Regions from separate parts of the Homo sapiens genome. Here all the other regions are reported to be linked to region 4. Evidence: microRNA targets listed by miRTarBase, many of them from high-throughput screens and not tested one by one. Region 4 holds a microRNA gene; each other region holds the end of a gene's coding sequence.

Evidence for each region. Region 4 holds the annotated microRNA hsa-miR-6861-3p (UGGACCUCUCCUCCCCAG, at 1,224-1,241, shown strand). A microRNA usually pairs through its seed, bases 2 to 8, with sites in the 3' UTR of a target mRNA and lowers its output. Matches are read on the target gene's strand: a 7mer-m8 pairs with bases 2 to 8, a 7mer-A1 pairs with bases 2 to 7 and ends in A, and an 8mer does both.
Region 1: miRTarBase lists TM4SF18 as a target of hsa-miR-6861-3p. Seed matches in the 3' UTR shown: 7mer-A1 at 746-752.
Region 2: the mRNA of MAZ is a reported target of hsa-miR-6861-3p. The part of its 3' UTR that is shown has no 7-base or 8-base seed match.
Region 3: the mRNA of PPP1R11 is a reported target of hsa-miR-6861-3p. Seed matches in the 3' UTR shown: 7mer-m8 at 2,797-2,803.

What each region holds. Positions count from the first base shown.
Region 1 is chr3:149,318,465-149,322,456 of GRCh38, forward strand. TM4SF18 (transmembrane 4 L six family member 18) reads right to left here. Exons shown (of 6, transcript NM_138786.4): 5 at 3,792-3,972; 6 at 34-3,028. The coding sequence ends at 3,014. All of the region lies in intron 1 of TM4SF18-AS1 (TM4SF18 antisense RNA 1), which reads left to right. Among named protein-coding and RNA genes, the nearest start is that of TM4SF18, 13 kb to the right of the region's middle.
Region 2 is chr16:29,808,941-29,812,932 of GRCh38, reverse strand. MAZ (MYC associated zinc finger protein) reads right to left here. Exons shown (of 5, transcript NM_002383.4): 5 at 1,769-2,856. The coding sequence ends at 2,702. PRRT2 (proline rich transmembrane protein 2) reads right to left here and starts at 740. Exons shown (of 4, transcript NM_145239.3): 1 at 610-740. MVP-DT (MVP divergent transcript) reads left to right here. Exons shown (of 4, transcript NR_186424.1): 3 at 2,760-2,898; 4 at 3,800-3,992. RefSeq lists silencers at 738-887, 1,288-1,367.
Region 3 is chr6:30,068,682-30,072,673 of GRCh38, reverse strand. PPP1R11 (protein phosphatase 1 regulatory inhibitor subunit 11) reads right to left here. Exons shown (of 3, transcript NM_021959.3): 2 at 3,976-3,992; 3 at 2,341-3,570. The coding sequence ends at 3,368. It overlaps RNF39 (ring finger protein 39), which reads left to right. Exons shown (of 4, transcript NM_025236.4): 4 at 983-2,404. The coding sequence ends at 1,563. Among named protein-coding and RNA genes, the nearest start is that of PPP1R11, 3.5 kb to the right of the region's middle.
Region 4 is chr12:112,160,514-112,164,505 of GRCh38, reverse strand. MIR6861 (microRNA 6861) reads left to right here and starts at 1,185; the gene lies at 1,185-1,248. It overlaps HECTD4 (HECT domain E3 ubiquitin protein ligase 4), which reads left to right. Exons shown (of 76, transcript NM_001388303.1): 73 at 231-397; 74 at 769-964; 75 at 1,242-1,464; 76 at 1,983-3,992. The coding sequence ends at 2,119.

The DNA of each region.
Region 1 (3,992 bases), not on the chromosome of region 4:
TAAATGAATTTTACAGAAAGAATTAGAGGACCATTGCTTTTTAAATGACATTTATTTTTTCTAATAATTCAAGTACATAACACATTTTCAAAGGGAAATTTGAAAATACTGAACAATGTAAAGAAAAGAGATAGAACTTATAGTCCTATCATTAGGAGATAATTATTAAGTATTAACTTGTGCGTACTTATGCTTTCTTTTTTCAGCCTATAGCATCTGGTCTCCCATCCAAGTAATAACCTGGATCAATCCTGCTTAAGTTTCCAATATTAGGCATTTTCAGGGTGTTGTGACCACAGATGATGTAACTATTAACTTTTAAATATTTTTCTGGTCTTTACATATCTCAAGGTTTATACATGTCTACATGTAATTATATGGTTACTTAATTAAAAATTTGGGCTCAAACTGCATACATATATTTGGTTTTTGAGTTTTTTTTCCTTTTTACTTTGAATTCACGAGGATATAAAACACATATTCAGCTTTTTTTGTATTCAGCTTTTTTTTACTTAAAATTGCATGATTAGCATATACTCTTCAAATATAGAATATTTGGTGGCTGTGTTAAAATTTAATTTTCCTGATAGAGGTATCATGCTGCATTTGGCTGTACCCCTGATGTGTCCAATGCTGTGGTGGAGTCATTCAGCAAACATCTATTAACAGTCCATTCAACGTACGGTGCCATGCTGAATCTAAACAAGAGATAGACAGTCTGAAAGTATATAACAAACTGATGAAGTGGACCTTCCAGAAGTCTGTTTACAAGAGGGCTGAGGAGACTTTGAGAGAATTTTTAACAAGATGGTCCTAGATATGACTAGCTTATGGACTTGATAGAGAAATCCTGGGCTGTCAGAGGGGAGAGGTCACTCTGAGTACAACATGGTGTCTGTAGCTTGGGTTTGCCTCTTGGTCCAAGTCCTTCAGACCTCATATTTAAGTTCTTTGGAAAGTAGAGTGTTATTGAATGAAGCTCTGTAAAACTCTGGAGCCTAAGCATCTTTGTCTTAGCATCCCTCCAACCCAACATCTAGAAAAGGGAGACTTCATTTGGATCGTTTTAGTTGCAATAAACAGAGCTGCACTGATTTAGTCGGGGGTTTACTGAAATGATCAGCACAGTGACAAAGAAGAAAGACTATCTAGGAATCCAAGAACAGAAACCAGGCCTAGGGTACACTGTTCATTGTGGGCAAAGGCAGTTTTAGGAGCTTTTGGAGTAGAAGTTCATGTATCTTCCTTTTAATATGATACCATTATTAACATGAACCAGATACTCTCTGAATGTTGGCTTCCTTCTTCATCCTTTAATCATTTTTTGATGGTAATGGTCCGGTTGCTTCATTCTTGGCTTCCTAGTTCAAATTCTTATGCTTGAATAACCACCAGTCTTGTTTGGACAGTGTTTTACTCCAGGCTAAGTCAGAGGCCATTAGCAAGACAATAGGCTGCCCATGACTCTGGGGCCTGCCCCAGTTCAGTCAGCTGGGCCCAGAGCATGAAGGTCATGCGGTGTATAACATGGCTTGCTTTCAAGATGCTTGTTTCAGCAAAGGCTGTGAACAAGGCTTAAAGGGGGCTGTTGGCACAGCAGGCATCAAGGAGAAAGATATTCTCTTCCGTATCCCCCCAGCCTACTCCCTGGCTTTGGCACAGAGCAGGTGTTGACAGACCATTGTTGACAGTGTCCATGGAGGAGACAAATGGGGAAATGGCAGAAGTGTTGAGGCCCAGTGCACCTGTGATGGAAGCAGTGCTCAGCAGGGTAACTACAGGAAGCAGAAAACCTGGTATGAGCATTCAACACTGAGTGCCTACTGGCTTCACTGTGTGCTGGGTCCTATGCATGGTGGGAAATATATAAGATGTGGCTACTGTCCCCGAGGAAGACATGGCATGTATAGGTGGAAAATTTGTAAGTGTTCTACTTTTTAATTACTTTAAAAATAAATATAGGTACTGGTAACTCCCCCTGACACAGGTATTGACTGGTCAGTGGTCATTTTCTCTTGCCCATTGAGCATGTTCCCTAGCTGCTCACTTATTTTAAGGCTACCTCTTCTAGTCCATCACACTCACCCTCAGGAGTCAGAAAGGAAGAGCAAGAGTTTAGATTGTATAAGTTTATATAAAACTCTTTTTGGCTCATCTATATCACTACTTTCCTCATTGAATGTTGATGGAAGTGTCATTTCATGATGTTTGCAAATAATGTTGAGGAATGTGGAAAGAGCATATGCCTTAAAGTTTGGAAAAATAAAAAAATTTTAATAGTGAAAATATGAGTTTAGAAAATATTTATAGTAAAACATATTCAATAAAGAAATCTTGGAAAATATAGAAAAGTGGGAAGAAGGGTCATCAATGCCCCAAACCAAGCATAATTGGCATTTTGTTATATTTCCTTTTAGATTTAGTTTTCATCCTAAACTTTGACTATTAGTGTTTCATTTGCTTTAAATAGTTATATAGTAAACATGAATTTGTAACCTGCTTTTTGATGTAGCATTATTCATAATTTTAAAAACATCATTTGTAATGACTGTAATTTTACAACCATGTAGTACTCTTTATTTTTTATTTAATTTTTTTTTTAATATCAGAAAACATTTACAGTATGTACCACTCTTTACTTAATCCTTCCTCTGAGTTTAGAATTTTGGGGTGTTTCCAATTTTCCAGAATATTAAATAATGTTGCAATATACATATTTGCATAAAGGTTTCTCTCATATTCTTATTTACTTCCCTAGTACAGATTCTTGGAAATGGATTTGTTTGATCAAAGGGCAGAAGTATTTCTGAAGTTTCTGATGCATATTACTTAAAAAACATACTAAATGGAAGGGTGGTATACTTGCATGTGCAGTGAGGACTGCAAATTTTTTACAAATAAACACCAAATGCAGAAAGCACCATCATTTCAATATTGCCCTCAAGTCTACACAGTTGATATAATATTTAGATAGATGGCCATGTCTTGATAATGGAAAACATTTTGTCCTTATTCAAATGATTCCAGGCTATAGGAAAAAAGGAAAAACAAAGTGATTAAAGTTATAAACTTGGCTTGATTAGTAATCCGTAATCCAGATAGCAACTTAAACTTATATTTCATATTCAAAATATGATAGAACAGAAAAAACATCTCTTAGAAATTGCTAGGAAAGGTATTACACATTCTGTTGTTAAACAAAATACAAGCCATCTAAATTCATAATTTTTCTTCACTCTGGACTTCTTGATAGCAGTTTCAACCATAACTAAATTAACATTAGTATTTTAGCAGACGAAGTAGAAGTAGTTTCAATGGGATAAATACATATTTCCCTTCTTCTTCAAAAGCACTCCTATGCACTCGAGATAAAGGTTCATTAGTTGAATGTAGCAGCATTCAGAAGAGAAGTTATTTCAATGAGATAAGGTTCTGAGCCTTTGCTTAACTTATGAACAGGGAAATTCTTGATAAATGGTAAAATTTCATCATGCTTTGAGTTATCTCTATGTAGAACACTAAAACTTTGCTCATTCAAAACACTTATGAAGCCTTACCATACAACAAGAAATGCAGATTTTACAATTACTGAGTTGATTCAACCCTTATAGATAAGCCAAGACACATTGGGATATCAGAAAAAATTGAGATATTAGAGCTTGAATAAAGATGAGGGCAATAGAAATGGGGGGAAAGTGATGGAATTCTAGAGTCTTTTCAAAAAGCCTCATTGAATCCTGGGAAGTGGGGGAAATATGGATGAGCTACAGGTGCCCATGAGAATCTGTTACCTGGAAGATCACTGAATAGCTTCCACACAGTATCTTGGATAGTTGCATGACTACTCTGATGAGGCAGATGATCACTTGAAGCCCACTGAGGGTTATGAGAATGGAAAATAAAATGATGTTCCACTCCACAACATGTGCAGGTTCCAGGCACTGAATCCATATGCTAGAATCTGTAAGGAAACTGAGAGAGACCCATGGCCA
Region 2 (3,992 bases), not on the chromosome of region 4:
GGCCCAATTGGGCCACATTCCTGTCTCAGGGCCAGCCTTGCACTGCCTCTAGGGAGAGGAAGAAAAGTTGGGGTTTCCTTTGCCTTAGGGTGGGACATCCCTGCGGGAGGAGTGCTCTACTCAAAGTCTTCTGCTTGGAGAGCCCTGGGGAAGATTAACCCTTTTGTAAACAGGACCTTCTCCAGGGTCTCTCCCTGGGTCCATCCAACAAGATCCAGACTCTCAGATCCCAGCACCCCAAAATCAACGAGCTGTGCAAATAGCACTCCGACAGGCCGACTGGGCAGAGGACCCGACATTCGCATTCCACTCCCTCTGCATCCTCCCCTCCTCCCTGGGCTCCCAGGCGGTGCGGGTTTTCTTGCTGCGCGTTTAGGGCGAGGACGCTCCCGCCCCTTTCTGGGGGACCTGGTTATCTCCTTCGATCCCCTGTCAGCCCCTCTCCCGGGGCTTCCCTCGCCTTCGGTGGGCTGGCGCCTCCTCCCGATGGTTCAGCCCGCCCAGCACCACCACCAGCCCTCCAGACACCCGCATTCCCGTGCAGTCCGCCCGGCGTCAGCCGTCGGTCGGTCCACTCCTACCCGCAGCCTCAGTCTGCCCGGGTCTCACCTCGACGCCGGCCTCCGGACAGCTCCCGCTGCCGCTGCTGGCTTTTGCAGCAGCCGCAGCCCGGGAGGGAGCAAGTCAGCTAGGGAGGGAGGGAGGCGGCGGGTCTCCCTCTTCTCCTCTCCCGTGTGCTCATCCCCTCCTCTCCGGTCCCCTCCCCTACGCTCCGCCGCCGTCGCCGCCCCCGCCCCTCGCGAGCCTCCGGCCCCTCCCGCCAGCCCAAGGGAGCCACGCGTTACCCAGGCAACCGGCCCGGGGACCACTCGCGCCCCCTCCCTGCCCCTTCTCACGCGCGCCTCCAGGAGAGACGCCTCCTTCTTAAGTCCCCGGCCCCTCCCGCCAACGGTCACCGGGATTCCTGGAAGAGACGGGGATTTGGGGGAAACGGAGAGGGTTCTGCGAGGAGACGGGACCAGTGAGACAGGCAGGACCGGGTGGAGGCGTCTCTACGAGCAGGAGGGCAAGGAAGATGGGGCAAGACGCGGGGAGGCTGCAGAGGAGGAGCAGGGTGGGGTTTGGAGAGAATGGAGCCTGCAGAAAGGAGCGGCAGAAACTGGCGCTGGAAGGCTCAAAAAAGGGGCCCTGGAAAGGACGGAGCGGGGACAGGAAAGGGAATTCCAAGGGGCAGGAGGAGCTGGGCAGAGGAGCCCGTGTAAACACAGAGTGGCCCATGCCCAGGATGAGGGACAGGTGCAGCTTTCATTCTCTACCTCGCTGCTCCCAGTCCTAGGGCTCGGACTCCCCAGCCTTTCCGCAGCCGCATCCACCCACCATGGCCTCAGGGCCGTGACGCGCGTGGGGAGGGATGCGGCTGGGGGCTGAGCAGCGGCCATGAGTGTGGACGGGGGAGGGCGGCATTCCCGTCTGGCAGCTCTGTTTGGGTTTCTGACGGGGCCTCTTCAAACCTCCAGGGGCTATTCTGGGCCTGTCCGAGTTGGGAATTCCCCAGAGACCTGGAACTTGCTCTCCACAGCCACAGCCTTGGCCCCGCCCTGTATCTGTGCTGCCGCCAGTAAGGCTGCCCCTGGGGAGGGCGGAGCCAGAACCTCACAGCCTCACAGGGCAGAGCAAGGCTGGATTGACGGACACCAGGCCGAGAAGAAACCCTTGGGGTTGGCGGCAGTTCTTAGTGAGGGCAATTCATTCAATCCAGAGCCAGAAACAGGATTTTATTTAAAATTTATTGTAATGGGGTCCGCGCAAAAGGAAGGGGTGGAGGGTGGGGTACATGCAGGGGACACAGGAACACGATGACATGGCCAGGGCCACAACTTCTTCTGTCGTGGGGAAGAGGGATGAAAAGACAAGACCAGGGCTGGAGCTGGGGTGGAAGAGGGGAGGGGGACACTGGCTGCATTCCCCCGCCCCCAGGAAGCACCTCTAGGCCCTGGACCCCTCGCTCACCCTGGCCCCTAAGACTCCATCTCTTCTCTGCCTCTGGCCCTCCTGGCTCTTCCTCCTGCTCCCCTTGACTTTTTCCCCTGACAGATTCTCAAGTAGGACGATGTTCAGGGCCTGACCCCAACCCCCCATACCACCTTATGAAGGTACAACCTTTGCCGGCCCTGCTTCTGCCCCTCCTCAAACCTCACCGCTTTCCCTCTTTGGGACAGCTCTGATCCCCCTCCTTCCTCTCCTCCCTCCCCCTGGAAAAAAAAAAAAAAGGAAAAGAAAGCACCAACTCCCCGGGGAGGGGCTGCAGACAGCAGGGGGAGAGGACTGGAAGGAGAGAAGAGGACCGTCGAGGGAAGAGGCTCACAAGTCCCTGGGAAGACAGGGCATGGGCTTACAGAGAGGAGAGGGGGTACGGGCAGTGGCTGCTCGTGTCCTCTGCCACCCCTGCCCACTGTCCAGGGGACTTCAACACAACCGAGGGGACAGGTTTGTGTGGGGTCAGGTCTGACAGAAGAGGAGCAGGAGAAACAAATCGTTAAAACCTAGCGAATTCCCCTAAGAAAACATTTCTTCCTCCTTTCCTTCTGGAGGCTCCTTGGTTGGTAGGGAAATAGGAGTTGGTGGGAAAAGAGGGGGGAGAGGAGCTTGTACCAAGGGACTCTACTCCATTCTCCCCTCTCCCCCGCAACCAACTTGGAGCTCACCAGGGTTGGGAGGGAAGTGGCTGAGAGCTCACAGGCACCCCCTCCGCCCCCGAGAGGGAGCCCACAGCTGTGGGAGGGGCTGCTACTGCTGCCGCTGCTGCCGCTGCCGCCGCTGCCGCTGCCGCCGCCATTGGACAAACCTCACCAGTACCTGCACAGGAGAAACACCACGGATCACAGCGCGATCTGAATGGCAAGAGCCTTGCCCTCACCCCACACCTTCCCAGCCTGCTTCCCCTGGGACACAGCCGTTGCTCACTTCCTATCTGGACCCCAGAGGCCTCAGCCTGCATCCTCACCCAGACAGAGCAGTTCTCAAGGATCCTCCCTGTGCCCAGAAGTCTCCCTAGCCTGAGTGGTACATGGGCATCCCTCGCCTTCCTGAGATCCCCTATTGGGCCCTTTGAGCCCCGTTGTCCCCCACACCCCCCATCCCGCCCCCCAGCCATGCCCCACGCCTTGCCTGGTGGGTGCGGGGGTCCCCCTCAGCAGGTGGGCTGTGGCTGGGGGGCGTCTCCCGGGACAGGGGGGGCGGCCCCCCCCAGATGGGTCTGCATGTGGCCGGCCAGCTGGGCAGGGGTCTTGCAGTGCACGCTGCACAGCTTGCACAGGATGCGGTCAGCCCGCGGGGCCTGGAGCCCGTGGTCCTTCACCGCGTGGATGCGCAGGTATGCTGCCGTGGTGAAGCCTATTGGGGGGTGGATTGGGATGGGGCGGGGGTCAGCCAGGCGGAGACCCCAGAGACGGGGCTGATCTCCTAGGCGGGGGATGCCCTCCTCAGATGGCCCTGTCCTCCTCCCACGGTATCCTTGGTAGCCTGGGGCCAACTGCTCTGTTGGGGCTGGTAGACACAGCCCCTCCCTGAGCCTGGGGCCTGGCTTGTGTGGTGCCCGCTTCTCAGCCTTGGTACCTACAGAACTCATTCTCCATGGCCGGGAGACCTCTCCCAGGATGACGAGACACTGACTCCTAGCCACTTGCAGGGTTGACCCTCAGCAGAGACGGCTGTGTCCCCTTCCCTCCAGTGCCCCGCGGTCTCAACCCAGTTAACCGGTGAGTCTGACTGAAGGCAGCTTTCTCTGCTACCCGTGCAGGGTGCGTGCTGGTAAAGCCCGGCCCGTGTACTCCACCTGCCCCAGGAGCTGGAGACAAGACCTTGTGGCTGCGCAGCGGAAACCTTGCCTTGTGACCCCTGGAACTGGCTTTCTTGACTACTCCTTCCCCAGAGCAGCCAAGTTCCACTCCCGCTTTCCCCACACATTACCAGGAGGTTCAACCTCTCTGGCA
Region 3 (3,992 bases), not on the chromosome of region 4:
GTGTGTGTGGAGTGGGGGAGGGCACAGTTCAGCCTATAACAATGTCTATCCTCGATTCCTCATATTCCAGCCATTTTCCCTCTTCCTTTTTCATACATTCAAACAACAGATCCCTGAAGGTTAGGTGCCTCTCAAAAATCTCTGCTTCCACCACCTCTCGTCACTCCTCCCTGGAAGGGGACCCCAGCATCTCCTTGACCCTTCTTTCCTCACTCACTCCCAAGAAGAAGGGTGCCTCTACCCTTCTTTAAACTGCCTAGAGAAGGTGGTCCACCATCTTGGTCATCCACCATCTTGCCCAGTCCAGATTGCTTCTGACACCCCTAATCCAGAAATTTTTCTTCAAAGCACCCCATACATATAAGGCCAATGGTTCTTTTTCTGGTCTCTGGCTATCACCACCTGCTCTCCTCCTCTGCCCCACAACCCCTACAGAAATAGGACTGTCCACCCCACCCCCCAATTCCTGTGGGTGGGTGGGCTGGTTTCTCAGGATACCTTGGATTCCTCCCTGTGCCCCTCCCATTACTTGAGGTTCCAGTATCAGTACGACTTTCTCTTTAGATGAACCTTCCCCATTTTGCTGACCCAGCTCCCATGCCCCACCCCAGATGATGCAGATTGAGGTATCAGTCCTTACTCCTCCCTCGAAGTCAGATCAGCCTCACTCTTCCTCCCCCAACCCCACAAACGAGACAACCTCTCATTTGATCTTCCTGCTGTGCTCCCTGCACTGGGCCAGTATGATCCTTCCCCAGGTCCAATTCTACAGAAGTGGTGCATCAGTACAAGGTCTGATATTGCCCAGGTCTGCTCTTCATATGCCTTCCTTCTTTTTGGTCCTGCAGTCGCCTTTTGAGCTGTTGTGTGGTCACTAGCTCTCAGTCTTTTACGTGATCTTCGTTGACTATTCTCCACCCTACCCCGCCTGTGATTTAGAAAACTCTCTCATGAGGTCCTCTCCCTGCCTCCCCGTCTCCAGCCGACCTGACCCTGGACCCTGGGACCGCACACCGCCGCCTGCTCATCTCCGCCGACCGCCGCAGCGTACAACTGGCCCCACCAGGGACGCCCGCGCCCCCTGACGGCCCCAAGCGCTTCGATCAGCTCCCAGCTGTGCTGGGTGCGCAGGGCTTCGGGGCCGGCCGCCACTGCTGGGAGGTGGAGACTGCGGACGCCGCCTCCTGCAGAGACTCTTCTGGGGAGGATGCGGACGACGAGGAGAGCCACTATGCAGTGGGCGCGGCCGGGGAATCAGTGCAACGCAAGGGCTGCGTAAGGCTGTGCCCTGCGGGGGCCGTGTGGGCCGTGGAGGGCCGCGGCGGCCGCCTGTGGGCCCTCACGGCACCCGAACCCACCCTGCTGGGCGGTGTTGAGCCCCCGCCGCGGCGCATTCGCGTGGACCTGGACTGGGAGCGGGGCCGCGTGGCCTTCTACGACGGCCGCTCACTCGACCTGCTTTACGCCTTCCAGGCGCCTGGCCCCCTGGGGGAGCGCATCTTCCCGCTGTTCTGCACCTGCGACCCTCGTGCTCCGCTCCGCATTGTACCAGCGGAAAGCTGAGTCTCGTCTCCAACTAGAAGTTTGGCCCGGCCACTGGCCCTGCAGCTGCTTTTTGGGGGTGGAATTCCCCACTCATTTCTGGGAACACATTCACACGCCCATTGCAGGAGTATTAATAGCAACCCACATTTTCGCCCCAAAATAATGAGACCTCACCTGGTCTCCACGTTTCCACGTCCCTGCTCAAAACCAAATCCATTCCTGCCTTCTGGCTCTCAGAATCTTCTCTCCCCTACAGCTACTACAGTACTTCCTGACTTCTCCCATTCAAACCATTCTAGGCCTGCAATGGGGAACAGGCCCTCCCCATCAGTATTGGTAAAGTGACCATGATTCCTACATAGAGGCTCTGCTGGTCAAATACTTGACTCCCACTCTTGCCACTCCTAGCTCCAGAAGGGCTCAGGGCCTTCCCCACAGATCTAAGGACTGGGCTACCCTGCCTGTCCACTGAGGTTTCTCCTAAAACAAGAGGCTTGACTCTGGTCTGGGCCCTGTGGCCCTCTGGGAAGCTTTGTACCTCTTTTGCAGGATCTGGGGGTGGGGAGGGACAAGCTAGTTCCCCAACCTCCTATGACTGCTTTCTATGCTCACAGCCTTTTTTCCATAAGAACCTTCTTGAAACTTCTCCCCGCACATACTCACGGAAAGGAACCAATGGTGCTATTTCCCCTCTCTCCTCCTCAACCTGGGAATACTTCAGACATCTCCAAACTCATCCTTGTGTATAGTCTCACACCCTTCCCCATAAGTATAAATGGGCCCATATTTAACACATTTTGTGATTTTGGGTTATTTATTTTGTGCATCTGTGGCAATAAATGAGATCTCAGTGGTGGTATGGATTTGACTGATCTCTGTAACTGTGTATGGCAAAAGGACCGGAAAATGAAAACCGGATCCCAGTAAGGGGTAGAGAGGGGCCAAGAGAACTGAACATCTGGGCTGCCGGAGAAATCAAAGTCTAGGAAGTAAGAGGTAAGAGTGTACTACAGGGGACATACCCCAATCTCTTTGCTCCCTCCCTCTTCCTTCCTCTCCCAGAGACCCAGGTCCCTGGGACTATATTGGATCTGTCTCTGAAGCTGAAAAACAAAAGGCAGAGGAGACAGTCGGCTCTAAGTGACCAATCTCAAGCCAGCTTTGTCAGAAATCCTAAATAACAGGAGAAGGGTGGGAAGAAAGGATATGATTATTTCTTATTCCATTTTCCATAAGAGGTGAGAATGACAAGGACCTCTTTTCTAACTCCTCTTGAGGGTGTGAGAAGGGTTAGCAGGAGGAGAAGGGCTGGGAGCTCTGAGGTCTCCTGTAAGACCTCATATCTCACAGGCAAGGACTAAGAATTAGGATTAAATATTTTAGTGGGATAGCTCTAAACCAGGATTAGCAAGCAAAGTTAGGGCGCAAATTCCTGGAATCTGACTGGGACCCTGGCAGTGAAAGCTGGGACTGTTGAAAACCCAATTTAAGTGTTCGCTACTCATGTTGAGAGTGCAGGGCCAAGATAACTAGATCCCAGGACAGGCAGTTTGGCAGTGAGAACAAAAGGAAGACACTGGGACCAAGGTGCCTAGATCCCTCGAGAGAGAAGGGTGGGTATTGGGAGGAAAAATGAGGACTGGGGAAACCCAGGAGGCTGGGTTCTGGAATAGCAGCAAGTCAGAATTTCAGGATCTCTGTTCGTCCTCCTCTTCCTCTTCCCTCTATCAGGCAGAAGAGAGGGAAGGAGGGGGCTGGAGAAGTAGCCACATGGATACATTTAGGGCCAGACAGACACAGGAATGCTGGAGGAGAGAGGGATTTAGTGCTGCATTGGCCCTGGAGGGGGCTGGGAAGGGTCAGGAGGCTGGGGAGGGGTGGTGGGGGTCGGTCCTAGGGTTGCACGACGCCGTCCTTTGCGGTGGCCACGTACACAGTGTGTATGACCACAGCCCTCTTCTTCCTCCTCATCACTTTCCGTGGAGCTCTCGCCAAAGGCCCGAGGTTTCTCATAAATACAGCAGCCTAGATTTAGAGGGAGGAGCCCAGTTAAAGAGGAGGAAGGGTAAGATATATAGTCAGTTCCATTCCCACTCAAACTCAGTGAAAATTCCTATTTTCTCCTACCTTCCAGGATCCAGCTTCCCCAGGCCCACCCTCTGGGACTCAGGCCCCACCCCTCTTGTCCTCTTAGAGAGCCACGAATTCAAAGCCCCACTTCTCCCACCTCTGACACTTCTTGCTGTCAGACCTAGGCAATTCCAGTTCTAGCCCTTCCCTACCTCTTTCCCTGATACCACAGCACCACCAAAAAAGTGACAGAACTATGAACATCTGGGGGCTTCTGGAAAGCCAGTGGATATGAGTAGATACAAGATATGCTGAAGGGAGCCAGAACTCCAGGGCTACTGCGGGCCAACAATTACTCACATTTGGATGAGCGGCGG
Region 4 (3,992 bases):
ACAGACGTGGGAAGAGGCCTGGAATGTGGGTCTCTTTAGCCTGGCCTGGGTCACACGCCCGGCCCTGAACTGATGGCAGGTTCTGATTGGCGAAAGCTGTGTCACATGCTCATCTACACGGCCGAGGGTAGACCCCACCAGCTGCGCTTGGGGTTTACCCAGCCACCTGGGGATCAGGGTTCCACCTCCCATGGCCTCATAATGAGCCTCGCTCTGCCTCCACCCTCCAGATCAATGATGAGACCGAGCTGGAGGCCCTGTGCGCTGAGATCGCCTCCCAGCACCTGGCCACGGAGAGCCCTGACAGCCCCAACAAGCCCTGCTGCAGGTTCACCTACCTGACCATGACGGGCGAGGAGGTGGAGCTGTGCAGCCGGGGCCGGCACATCCTTGTGGCGTGAGTGTGTGCGCGTGTCAGGGGCTGGCAGGGGCTGGCCCGGCCAGCCAGCCAGGGTATGACAGCAGCATCTGTTCCTGGGCAATGACACGAGGACCTAGGTCAGGTGACAGGTGGATTTCACCAGGAGAGGGAGATGAGGCAGGATGGTGGGTGCCAAGAAAGAGGGTCCTCAGCAGAAGGGGTTTACTAAGAAAACAGCAGCTCTGAGGCGGCGGCACCAGAGGCAGGAAAGGACTGGGATGACCAGGGCGGCTGGGCCCCAGGCCTCTCCCAAGAGAGGATCCGGGACCTCCAGCTGAGTGGGTGTGGCCCCCAGACCCAGCCTCTTCGGCGGTGTTCTCCCTCACCTGTGCTCCTCACCCGGGCAGGTGGGAGAACAAGGACATCTACGCGGCAGCCATCCGGAGCCTGCGGCTGCGGGAGCTGCAGAATGTGGAGTGCGTGACGGCCGTGCGGGCCGGCCTGGGCTCCATCATCCCCCTGCAGCTGCTGACCATGCTCAGCCCACTGGAGATGGAGCTGCGCACCTGCGGCCTCCCCTACATCAACCTCGAGTTCCTCAAGGTAGACATCCCAGGGCCAGGCTGGGCGGGGAGGTGGTGAGCCCCAGGCGTGCCTCCCTGTCACCCTCAACTCCAGCAGCAGGCATCGGCAGTGGCCTGTCTCAGCTCTGTCCTTGCCACAGACCTGTATCATTGTCATCATTGTCATCTCCCTGTGCTCACAGCCCACACGTTGCACCCTGCCCCAGGATTGGGCCTGGCCTGCAGACCCCAGGGCTGGGGAGGCACTGGGTAGGTGGGGCTCCAGGGCTCCTGACACCTGGACCTCTCCTCCCCAGGCCCACACCATGTACCAAGTGGGGCTGATGGAGACGGACCAGCACATCGAGTTCTTCTGGGGGGCCCTGGAGATGTTCACCCAGGAGGAGCTGTGCAAGTTCATCAAGTTTGCCTGCAACCAGGAGCGCATCCCGTTCACCTGCCCCTGCAAAGATGGGGGTCCCGACACTGCCCATGTGCCCCCGTACCCCATGAAGATCGCCCCCCCAGATGGCACAGCAGGTACCGCCCTCCCCTGGCCATGTCCCAAGTAGGGACACACTAGCCTTTCTCTGTTTGGAACTGGGGCTGCCAGGCCCCATGTGAAGGGAGAACAATGAACAGGAGCCCCACGTGCCAAAACTCAGACATCATTGAGGATTAGGGCCCGGCAGGAACCAGCCATACAGGCCTGCTGTTAGATACTTTCTCATATCTTAAAAGAAGCTGAAAATCCAGAATGCTTCAAATCTTCTAACTTTTAAATGCAGAAAAATGGTTAAAAAAAAAAAAAAAGAAACAATTTGCTGGGCAGACAAACCCATCAGCAGTTTGGCACATGCGCTGTCCAGCAGCTCTCTCCCCTTTTCCCTCCAAGAACATCTCGCAGGTTCCCAGGCCCTCATCCCCCTCCTGCTGGGCCCCAGGATTGGCTTGGGGCTACCCAAGGAGGCAAACCTGGAAGCAGAGGCCAGCCCAGCTTCCCTGGGAGCCTCACAGATGTGGGCCCAACCCTCTGATGCTGGCTCGGTTTCTTGTAGGTTCCCCAGACTCTCGCTACATCCGCGTGGAGACCTGCATGTTCATGATCAAGCTTCCCCAGTACTCCTCTCTGGAAATCATGCTGGAGAAACTTCGTTGTGCCATTCACTACCGTGAAGACCCCCTCAGTGGCTGATGGGAGGGAGCCCCAGAATTAGGCTGTCACTGAGGCACCCACTCTGCTGGCTTGGGAAGCCACCACTGCGGCCCGTCCCTCCAGGGCCCTGCGTGAGGAGTTGGCAACATTTTGCTTTTCCAAACTTTCGTCCACATTCCAGGGCCTCCTGGAAGACTTAACCTTTTGTCTTTGTACGTTTCGTGATGGGTTGGTTCTTTTGCTGCCTGTTTGTGGTCTATTTGTAGGATAGTTTAGTTCCCAGACAGTTTGTGTCTAATTTGATCTTCTTGGACATTGTCCCTCATGGCCACCAGATTCTAATGCCATAAGGCCCCAGCTGGTTCCCCATCACAGAACCACCCAGCAGGAAGCCGGGGGTACAATGACCTCGGCCACACAGAGCGCTCGTGCTTTCAGCAGAGCGCCTCCACAGACAAGCCTGTGGCCAGCCCTGCCCTCCAGCCTCGAGCTGGAGTTGCTCCAGAGGCAGCCCCAGCAGGCCTCCCTCCACATAGAGGTGGCTGGGCCAATTGCCCAAACACGTGAGACACACAGGGAGCTTTATGTGTTCATCTTCCTGCTTTAGAACTTGCTCCCGGTCTTGGTTTTTCTGAGGAAAAGCCCACAGTGGTTCCCCTGCCCCTCCCATACCTCCCTATCTGCCGTCTGTCTCTTTGGGCCCTGGTCTGACAGTTTTCATCTGAGGCCTCCTCGGGAGCAGGAGACTTAAGGGTTCATCCCGACCTTAGTTCACAGAGCCTAGCTGGGTGCATCCCAGCCGCAGGGGGTGAGAAGACACCCAGAGATGGGGGACAATGCTCAGGTGGGGGCCTCCTCCGAGACTCTGGTTGAGAGGAAAGCACATGATTCAAGCCTACCCCACAAAAAAGGAGCACAAAATGCTCAGAAATGGCCCTTCCTCCCTGCAGTGACGTAGGACAAGGGAAAGGGCCACACCCATTTTCAAAAGAGTGGACTGAGGTGCTCTGCTCAATTTGGGGTCTGCTTTAGTGACCCAGACACTCAAGTCCAGATGGAGACTCCAGGGGGGTCCTTCTGCCCCTCTGGCCAGCCCCACCCAGCACTCCCCATCACCCCATGTAAGTGTGTATGCCAGGGCTGAGCTGCCTCCAGGCTCACCCACTGCATCTTTGCCCCAAATAGGTCTTTGTCCAGTGGTACTTTGTTCATGAGCAGCACAGGCCATCTTGTTGGACACTGTCACTTTGGGCCTTGCCAGGTCTCACAGAATCACATCGCTGTATTTATTGTATAATATTGTGAATATTGGAAGTTTTGAGTGAGTGCTGTCTAGAAGGTTTTGGAGTGTGGATGCTGGTCCAAGAAAGAAGATGTGCCCTGGCCTGCTGGAAAGATTGTGAATTCTAGAGATAGAGCCGTTAGCATCCATCTCCTCCCTGTAACTCTTAGGAAATGCATCAAGGACCATTATAGAAAGGATCCCCTGACCTAAGGATGAAATCGACCTAGGGTTAATCATGACAGCTGCATCAGTTGTATTGGATGCAAGTCAACTCTGGAGGTGAGTGCCCGCAAGCAGTTCCCCTGCTTTGAAAGAAGATGGTCAGCCCGCTGCCTCCCCAGCGGCCACAGCTCCTTTGAGTGTGGGGGGTCACAGCCAGGATGTATTCCTGACAATAAGGATCCTTTTATTTTCATTTCTGCATAATGAAAGAGCCTTTCGATTTATTAGAAGTGGTTTTTCCTCCCTACATCTTTAAATTCTTGGTTCTCTTTAGTCCTCATCCCTTGAATGGACTTGTCAGCTACCTCCCCAGGAGGAGTTCAGAAGCTTCTGTTGGCCATCACTTGAGTAGATGACAAGCTGTAAGGTATCTGCTGCTAACGTGGCTGCTTCTCCGAGAGCACA